Homo sapiens: one gene and its partner. The protein of the gene in region 1 binds, or shares a complex with, the protein of each later gene. Each region holds a gene or a part of one and is shown in the gene's direction. Other genes may lie near its edges.

The links. Proteins that work in one complex are often made in the same cells at the same time.
Region 2: KAT6A (region 1) and BRPF1 share a complex: the UniProt entries of both Homo sapiens proteins name them as parts of the MOZ/MORF complex.

Annotation. Positions count from the first base shown.
Region 1 is NC_000008.11:42,049,932-42,053,677, reverse strand, and holds the start of KAT6A (histone acetyltransferase KAT6A), read left to right. Parts: upstream 1-1,690; 5' UTR 1,691-1,777; exon of another isoform or gene 1,778-1,928; intron 1,929-3,746. UniProt on the Homo sapiens protein: Histone acetyltransferase that acetylates lysine residues in histone H3 and histone H4 (in vitro). Component of the MOZ/MORF complex which has a histone H3 acetyltransferase activity. May act as a transcriptional coactivator for RUNX1 and RUNX2.
Region 2 is NC_000003.12:9,741,676-9,745,421, forward strand, and holds part of BRPF1 (peregrin), read left to right. Parts: intron 1-349; coding exon 350-496; intron 497-676; exon of another isoform or gene 677-866; intron 867-1,268; coding exon 1,269-1,578; intron 1,579-1,902; coding exon 1,903-2,226; intron 2,227-2,548; coding exon 2,549-2,833; intron 2,834-3,332; coding exon 3,333-3,480; intron 3,481-3,746. UniProt on the Homo sapiens protein: Scaffold subunit of various histone acetyltransferase (HAT) complexes, such as the MOZ/MORF and HBO1 complexes, which have a histone H3 acetyltransferase activity.

The DNA of each region.
Region 1 (3,746 bases):
GCAGAGTCATTATAGGAGAGCATTTACCAGTGAATGTATTCGGAATATATATATATATATATATATATCACATGTAAGTGCAAAATGACTAGAGCAAATGATACTACTACAGAAGTTCAGAAAAGGAAGTCAGCATGGAAGTTAAGGCAGTGGGTGAGAGGGAGGCCCTTAAAAGCTAAAGCTGAGATAAAATGAGGTATTGCGGGCGACAGTCTAGGCGGGGTGTGTCGTATGGGGTTGGGGACAGGGCAGATAAAGGTCAGGCAGCAGGATACACGTCCATGTCAACGATTAAACATTTAGTGTCTTTTTCATGTCTACTGTCTTTCTAGTGAATGCAGAAAAAAAAAAAATGCATGACTTGGCCAGGTGCAGTGTCTCAGGCCTGTAATCCCAGCACTTTGGGAGGCCGAAGAGGGCGGATCACTTGAAGTCAGGAGTTCGAGACCAGCGGCCTGGCCAACATAGTGACACCCCGTCTCTACTAAAAATACAAAAATAAGCCAGGCGTGGTGGCGGGCGCCTGCAGTCCCAGCTACTCAGGAGGATGAGGTAGGAGAATCGCTTGAACCCAGGAGACGGAGGTTGCAGTGAGCCAAGATCGCACCACTTGCACTCCAGCCTGGGCAACAGAGCGACACTGTCTCAAAAAAAAAAAAAAAAGTATGACTCAGTCTCTGCATCAAAGAGTTTAAAGTAGATGAAAGGCAAGACAAAGAAACGTCCATACAGCCAGTAGTGGACAGGCAGGCCATGAAGAACCGCCTGCTCGTGGTTCCAACGCCCTAAGTATGGACAAGAGTTCCGCACAGGGCAAGAAGGGAAGACCGGCTTTGGAATAAGACAAATCTCAGTCCCAGGCTCAGGTGCGCGCCACATACTAGCTGTGTGACCTTGTCCAAGTCACACGACCCAGGTCTGTGGAGTCTCCCATAAAATGGCTCTAGTGAGCTCCAAGAACCCTCTCAGCTGCTGGGGGAGGGAAGAAATGAAGTCACTGCTGAAAGGGGTTAAGACGGGTGCTTCTGGTTCCACCCTCTCCCCAACTCTTCCCACCGACACAGGAGAGCCGTCGGGGGCTGAGGCGAGCTGCCAGGGGTGAGGACGGGAAGCCGCCTCCTCTCCGCCCCCCAGGCCCCGCCCTCGGGCTCCGGAAAGTCGCTGTGCAGGCAAATGAGTGGGGAGGGAGGGCTCACTAACTGTAAACAGACGCCGCCGAGAGTTCCCATCCTGCGTGGCTGCCGGATTTCCGTGCCACACTGAAGCCACCCCACCCAGACTCCTGCCCTCAGTTTCCCCAGCGGTGGCATGGGGTGCACCAGCTCCTCCTCTCCCGGGTCGCCGTCTGACTTAAACGCGTGAGACGGGAGAGGAGGAACCCCCGCTCCCCAGCCTCCAGCCCCACCAAGTCCTCCTCCTCCCCTGGCTTTGGCCTTTTGTACCGGCCCCACGTGACCCCGCCGGCCGGCTCTTCCCTGCTGCCCCGCCCCGCCCTCCGGCCTTTCCCGGCTCTCGGCCCAGCTCTTCCCGCTCTCGGCCGCCCCCCACCCGCGCTGCCGGGCCTCCGCCTCCCCTCGCCGCCCGCCCAGGCTCTTCCAGCTCCCTCCCCCAGGCCGCCGTTCCCTCGCGACGCTCCCCTCCCCCCGCGGCTGTTCCGCCGCCTTGCCTCCCCTCCCCCCGGCTGGAGCTCACTGTCTCCAAGATGGCGGCCGTGTCAGTTTGGGGCATCTCCGCGGTCCGGCCCGGGGCCCCGGGATCTCGGCTGTCCTTCCTCCCGGTAAGTAGCCGAGGGGCCGTTCCCGGCCGCCCCCGGCCGCCCAGCCCGAGGCCGAGCCGCTCCAGGGCCCACTCCGCTGCCTCGCGGGGTCGGCGGGCCGCTGCAGGCCCCGCCGCGGCCTGCGCCGCCTCCCGCTGCTCTGCGCCAGGCCTCGGGCTGGGGCGCCGTGGCCGCCCCCTCGCGCCCGCCCGCTCGCTCGCTCGCTTGCTCGCTTGTTCGGCGCCCGGCTGCCCCGGCCCGCGGCCCGCGCGCCGCCGCCCGGCCCCGCGCTCGCGGGCCCCGCGCCCCCGATCCCGCCGGCCGGGCCCGCCCTGGGGGAGCCGGCGGGTGGGCGGGCGGCGAGCGGCCCAGGCCGCGGAGCCTCGGGCTGGCGGAGCCGGCGAGCCCGCTCTCCCTCGGGGCGCGCCCACCCGCCCGCCGCGCGCGTGCCGGCTGTGCCGGGCCGGGCCGCTTCTCCCCGCGCTCGCGGGCGCTCGGGTTCGGGCTCGGGCTCGGGTTCCGGCTCCGGCTTTGGCTCCGGCCGGGGGCGCGGGGATCCGAGCGGGGCTGAGGCGGCGAGCGGGGCTGACAGGCCGGCGGGTGTTGTGGTGCGAGGCGCAGCACGTGTGGTGTTGTGTCTGCCGGGCTGTCAGCCCAGCCGCCGAGGGGAGGCCGGGCGCCTGTCAACCTCGCGGCTTGGCCCGGTGCGCGACTGTCAGGCTCCCAGCAACCCGCGCCGCCCTCGAGCCGGCCCCCAGAGCTTAGGGTGCGGAGCTGGGCCGGGGCTATGCACCGCTCTGAACTCCTTCACGTGATTTCATTGTTAACTTGTGCTCGGGGTCTGTTTCCATCGCGTGGAAACGGTGCAGCGCCCCGTCGGCGAGCTGCCGGGCTGTGCAGATCCAAGTTTTTAAAGTTTCTCGCTCTTTGAAAAGAGAGCGCGAAGACGTGTTTAGGGGTGGGGAATGGGGACGGGAAGGACTGTCGGAAGCGAGTTGCGCTCGCTCTAGCCGCTCGTGTACTTTCCGGGAGTTAAGATCCGAGGCTGCAGGCGCTTGACTTTCCGAAGACCTGGAGACTGATGACAATCCCGACTGGAAAGACAATGAGTGACTGTCACTCATTCTTTTACCTGCGAAGCTTAGTCAATTAGGACGTTCGTTCCCAGCTTGTTAAACTCAGGATGTAGCTTCTCATTTAGTTTAGACTTAATATCTGTATAATGAGCTTACTTGGAGTAATGATACTCTGATTTCTATCCTCTTGAGACCCTCACCAAATTGAAGCATGATTCTCCCAGGGGGCTTCTTTTTAGGCAGCTGATTTAAAAACAAATCTTGGCTCAGGTTTGAATGTTTGCTTCACTCTTTTCTTTCCTATCAGAGTTAATAGTAATATCTCTTTCCTAGTGTGTATTAGTTTTCCGTTTGATTTTAATGTCACTACCAAGAATAGTTGCTGTGGGAGCCATTTGTCTAGCATTGTTTATATTGTAATGCAAATGATCTCCAGAATGAGAGCAGAAGTTCTAAAAAACACTTCAGTTAAACTTATTTTTGGAGGCAAAAGAGTTAGATTCAGAATTCAGTACTTTAGTGATTAAACAAGATTGCATCTACCAGATTCTTTTATAGGGATACTGACTTTGATTCAGAGAGACAGTACATTTCTGTTTATGTTTTATTAATGTTCGTTTCAGGACAGCAATCTTGAATTTATATCTTTATTATTTGGGCTTCTCTTTAGTCCTACAAGTAGCCAGTGTATTTCTTTTTCTGTACCGTCCGTTTGATATGTAGTATGTGCGTTGACCCCAGTGATTCTGGGCCTTCCTCATTTCTAGTTTTCCTGTCTGAATTACTTACACGCAGTTTGACAGTTGTGACTCTCTTCAGCATATGAATAGAAACATCTTAGTTTGGGTTAGGAGAAGCTATCAGCATGTAATTCTTAAAATTTGAATGAAAGTGGATTATTGTTAAATTCAGTA
Region 2 (3,746 bases), on another chromosome or scaffold:
CGTGTGTACCCCAGCCAGATAGCAGCAGGGCTGACGCTGGAGTCAGGTCTCCTGGTGCTCGGTGTGCTTTTAGTTCTGCTGGAAGCAGAATGTCACAGGAGCGTATGAACAGAATCCTCAGTTATGTGACATAGGTAGCTGGTGCTGGTAGTTCAAGAAAGGGGGAAGCCAGAATTGTTGGTGCAAGTTTCCCTGGGTGGAGCCTCATAGAAGGTAGACCTGTATGAGTACACCCAGCTGTGAGGGTGGGAAAGAAGGCGGGTTCCCAGGCCAGCTGGGACCATATCCTCAGACCTCTTTGCCACTGAACTGGCCGAGGCCTGGCTGATCAGGCCTTTTTCTATGTTAGATCAAGGTTCAGCAGATTGCCATGGAGATGCAGCTGACTCCTTTCCTCATCCTCCTTCGCAAAACCTTGGAGCAGCTCCAAGAGAAGGACACAGGCAACATCTTCAGCGAGCCGGTCCCTCTGTCTGAGGTAACCGAATTGGACGAAGTAAGAATCCCTTCCCCTCACTCCACCTTCTCTCTGTTCCTCTCCCAGTTGGACCCCTGCTGCAGGTCTGGGCCAGGACTAGATGGGGACCTTGAAGAGAGGGGCTGGTGGCTCTGGGGCAGGATGAACTGGAGCCACATGTATCACCTGGACTCTGTCTTGTCCCTGTCACACCCCAAGGGCCCAGAATGGGAGGCAGTCTGCACTCCTTCCCCAGAGGCAGGGACTGAGTCTGCCAAATGAATAATCCCAGGGCAGGAAGACACTTTCGGGGTGCTGAACCCTAGAACGGAGACTTTAGAAGGCTCAGCACCTAAAGAACCAGCTCTGAAGCCCTAGGTCCTGACTGGCAGACTCTTCTCTCTAAAAGGTATAAAATGAGAGGCCTGAGGCAGCAGCCTCCTTATAAGTTACTGTTAAGTAAAAAGAGCTGTAGGAATGCAAGGTGGTGTTTATTTTCAGAGGAGTCCCCAAGCCATTTTCTTACTAAAGCCTCATATAGTCTAGAAAGTATATTTGGCTCTACTTTCATCATTTTCCAGGAGAGGAAAAGTAGGCCCAGAGAGGTTAAGAGACTTGCCAAAGTCACACAGCTTGTGACTGGTAAAGTCAGGACCAGAATCCAGCTTTCCTTTCCCCTGTGCTATATGCCTGCCTCTAACTGTGGTGGGAGGAGGTTGCTGGATGTGTTTCAGGGGGGCTTGTTAGGAGCAGGGTTCGGGGCAATAAGGAGGATATCTCCACTTAAAACAAACCTGCCCTGCCCTTCCAGGTACCTGACTACCTAGACCACATCAAAAAGCCCATGGACTTTTTCACCATGAAGCAGAACTTGGAGGCTTACCGCTACCTGAATTTTGATGATTTTGAGGAGGACTTCAACCTCATCGTCAGCAACTGCCTCAAGTATAACGCCAAGGACACCATCTTCTACCGGGCAGCAGTGCGGCTTCGTGAGCAGGGTGGTGCTGTGCTCCGCCAGGCCCGGCGCCAGGCAGAAAAAATGGGCATTGACTTTGAGACGGGCATGCATATCCCCCACAGCCTGGCTGGAGATGAGGCCACACACCACACTGAAGATGGTGGGTGATATATCACACACACATATAAGAGGCCAATGCCGGGGATGGACAGCTTTCCAAAAGTCCCCTCCTGGGAGCAGGCAGTGTAGGCAGAAAGCAGCTAGGCTGAGCAGTGGCAAGCTATCCCCAGGAATGCTCCCCAAGAAGCCAGACTGGGTGAATGGATAGCAGTGCCCGCCATTCCACATCTTGGTGCTGCTATTTTACAGCTGTTCCTGGTGAGAAGCCCAGGGGGGATGAGTGGGTTTCTTGCTGCCTGCCCAGGTTCAAGGGGCCCTGAGGGCTGCCCTGAGTCTGACCTTTCCCCTCCAACCCTACCCCTAGCAGCCGAGGAAGAGCGGCTGGTCTTGCTGGAGAACCAGAAGCACCTGCCAGTGGAAGAACAGCTAAAGCTGCTTCTGGAGCGGCTGGACGAAGTGAATGCCAGCAAGCAGAGTGTGGGCCGCTCACGGCGTGCAAAGATGATCAAGAAAGAGATGACGGCACTGCGGCGGAAGCTTGCCCATCAGCGAGAGACGGGACGTGATGGCCCTGAGCGGCATGGCCCCTCGAGCCGGGGTAGTCTGACACCCCACCCGGCAGCCTGTGACAAGGATGGGCAGACAGATAGTGCGGCAGAGGAGAGCAGCAGCCAGGAGACAAGCAAAGGTCTGAATCCCATGGCAAGGTGGACCCCAAAGCAAGTCAGACTTTGGCTCTGCAGCACACACTCAACCCCTGCCATTCCCCAGGCAGAGGTCCCTCCTACACAGCTAGCTGTACTTTCTCCCTCATTCCCCAATCAGGGGCCTCTTAGCTGCCTCTCTGGCTATTTGTATAAGAGTTAATCTTCCAAATTCCAAGCCCCTAAAATGATCTCCCCAACGTTAGCTGGAGTAATGGTCCTATATGCCCAGGGCATGACCCTGGATATCTACCCTTCTCAAATCAGGCCCCTCACCAACTCTCCTTCTTTCTTTCTCTGCTCCAGGCCTGGGTCCCAACATGTCCTCAACCCCCGCACATGAGGTGGGCAGGAGAACCTCAGTTCTGTTCTCCAAAAAGAACCCGAAGACAGCTGGACCGCCCAAGAGGCCGGGCCGGCCCCCCAAAAACCGGGAGAGCCAGATGACCCCCAGCCACGGAGGCAGTCCTGTGGGGCCCCCCCAGCTCCCCATCATGAGTTCCCTGCGTCAGCGCAAGCGGGGTAGGAGCCCCCGGCCCAGTTCGAGCTCAGACAGCGACAGTGATAAGTCCACAGAAGACCCCCCAATGGGTGAGCCTTACCATCACCCAGCCCCCCAAGAGAGTGAGCAAAGCTGCCATTCTTCCCAGCATACTCCCAGTTACCCCTTTATTTGCCCATAAAAGAGCGAGCTAGAAGGGTCCTTAGGAATCCTTTAACTCCACTCACTCATCTTACAGTTGGGAAAACTGAGGCCCAGAGACACTACGACCCAGCTAAAGTCCCATCCAGGGCCCCCTGCCTCCATTGTATCACTTTACCTTTTCTCTTCTCACCTTCCTTGGGGATCTCCTGCCCTTTAAGCCATTTGTGTCCTAAAGCCAGTAACTGCCGAGGGAAGCAAGGGGTGGAGCAGGGCTGTGGCCAACTGTGGTAGACACTGCCCAGAGCTAGCTCTGCTGGCCAAGGTTGGAGGAATTTTCCAGCACAGAAGGGGAACCCAAGCTCCAAGTCCCTCTTACCTCCATGTCATCTCTGATCTACATCTTCCTGACCGGTTCCTTCCCTCCTCCCCTTCCCTTCAACCAAGACTTACCAGCCAATGGCTTCAGCGGTGGAAACCAACCAGTGAAGAAGAGTTTCTTGGTATACCGTAATGACTGCAGCCTTCCCCGGAGCAGCTCAGACTCTGAGTCCAGCAGCAGTAGCAGTAGCAGCGCTGCTTCAGACCGGACCAGGTACCAGCCCTCCAGATCGAGGCCAACCTCAGGGGATGCCCTTCCAGGGCTCTTGGGCCTGTGTAGGTTTCCCTGTTGGAAGTGGGGTGGCAGCCATCTCAGTCTAGATTAAGATGGCTCAAACTCAAGGTTCTCTGCTAAATAAATAAATCAGTGTTACCATTAATAGAACAGAGAGAACCATCCTGGATTAAGGTGATGATTAGAGTATGCACTCCTGCCGCCACTGCTCAGGCTAACCCACCTCTGTTAGGTCATCAGCCTAG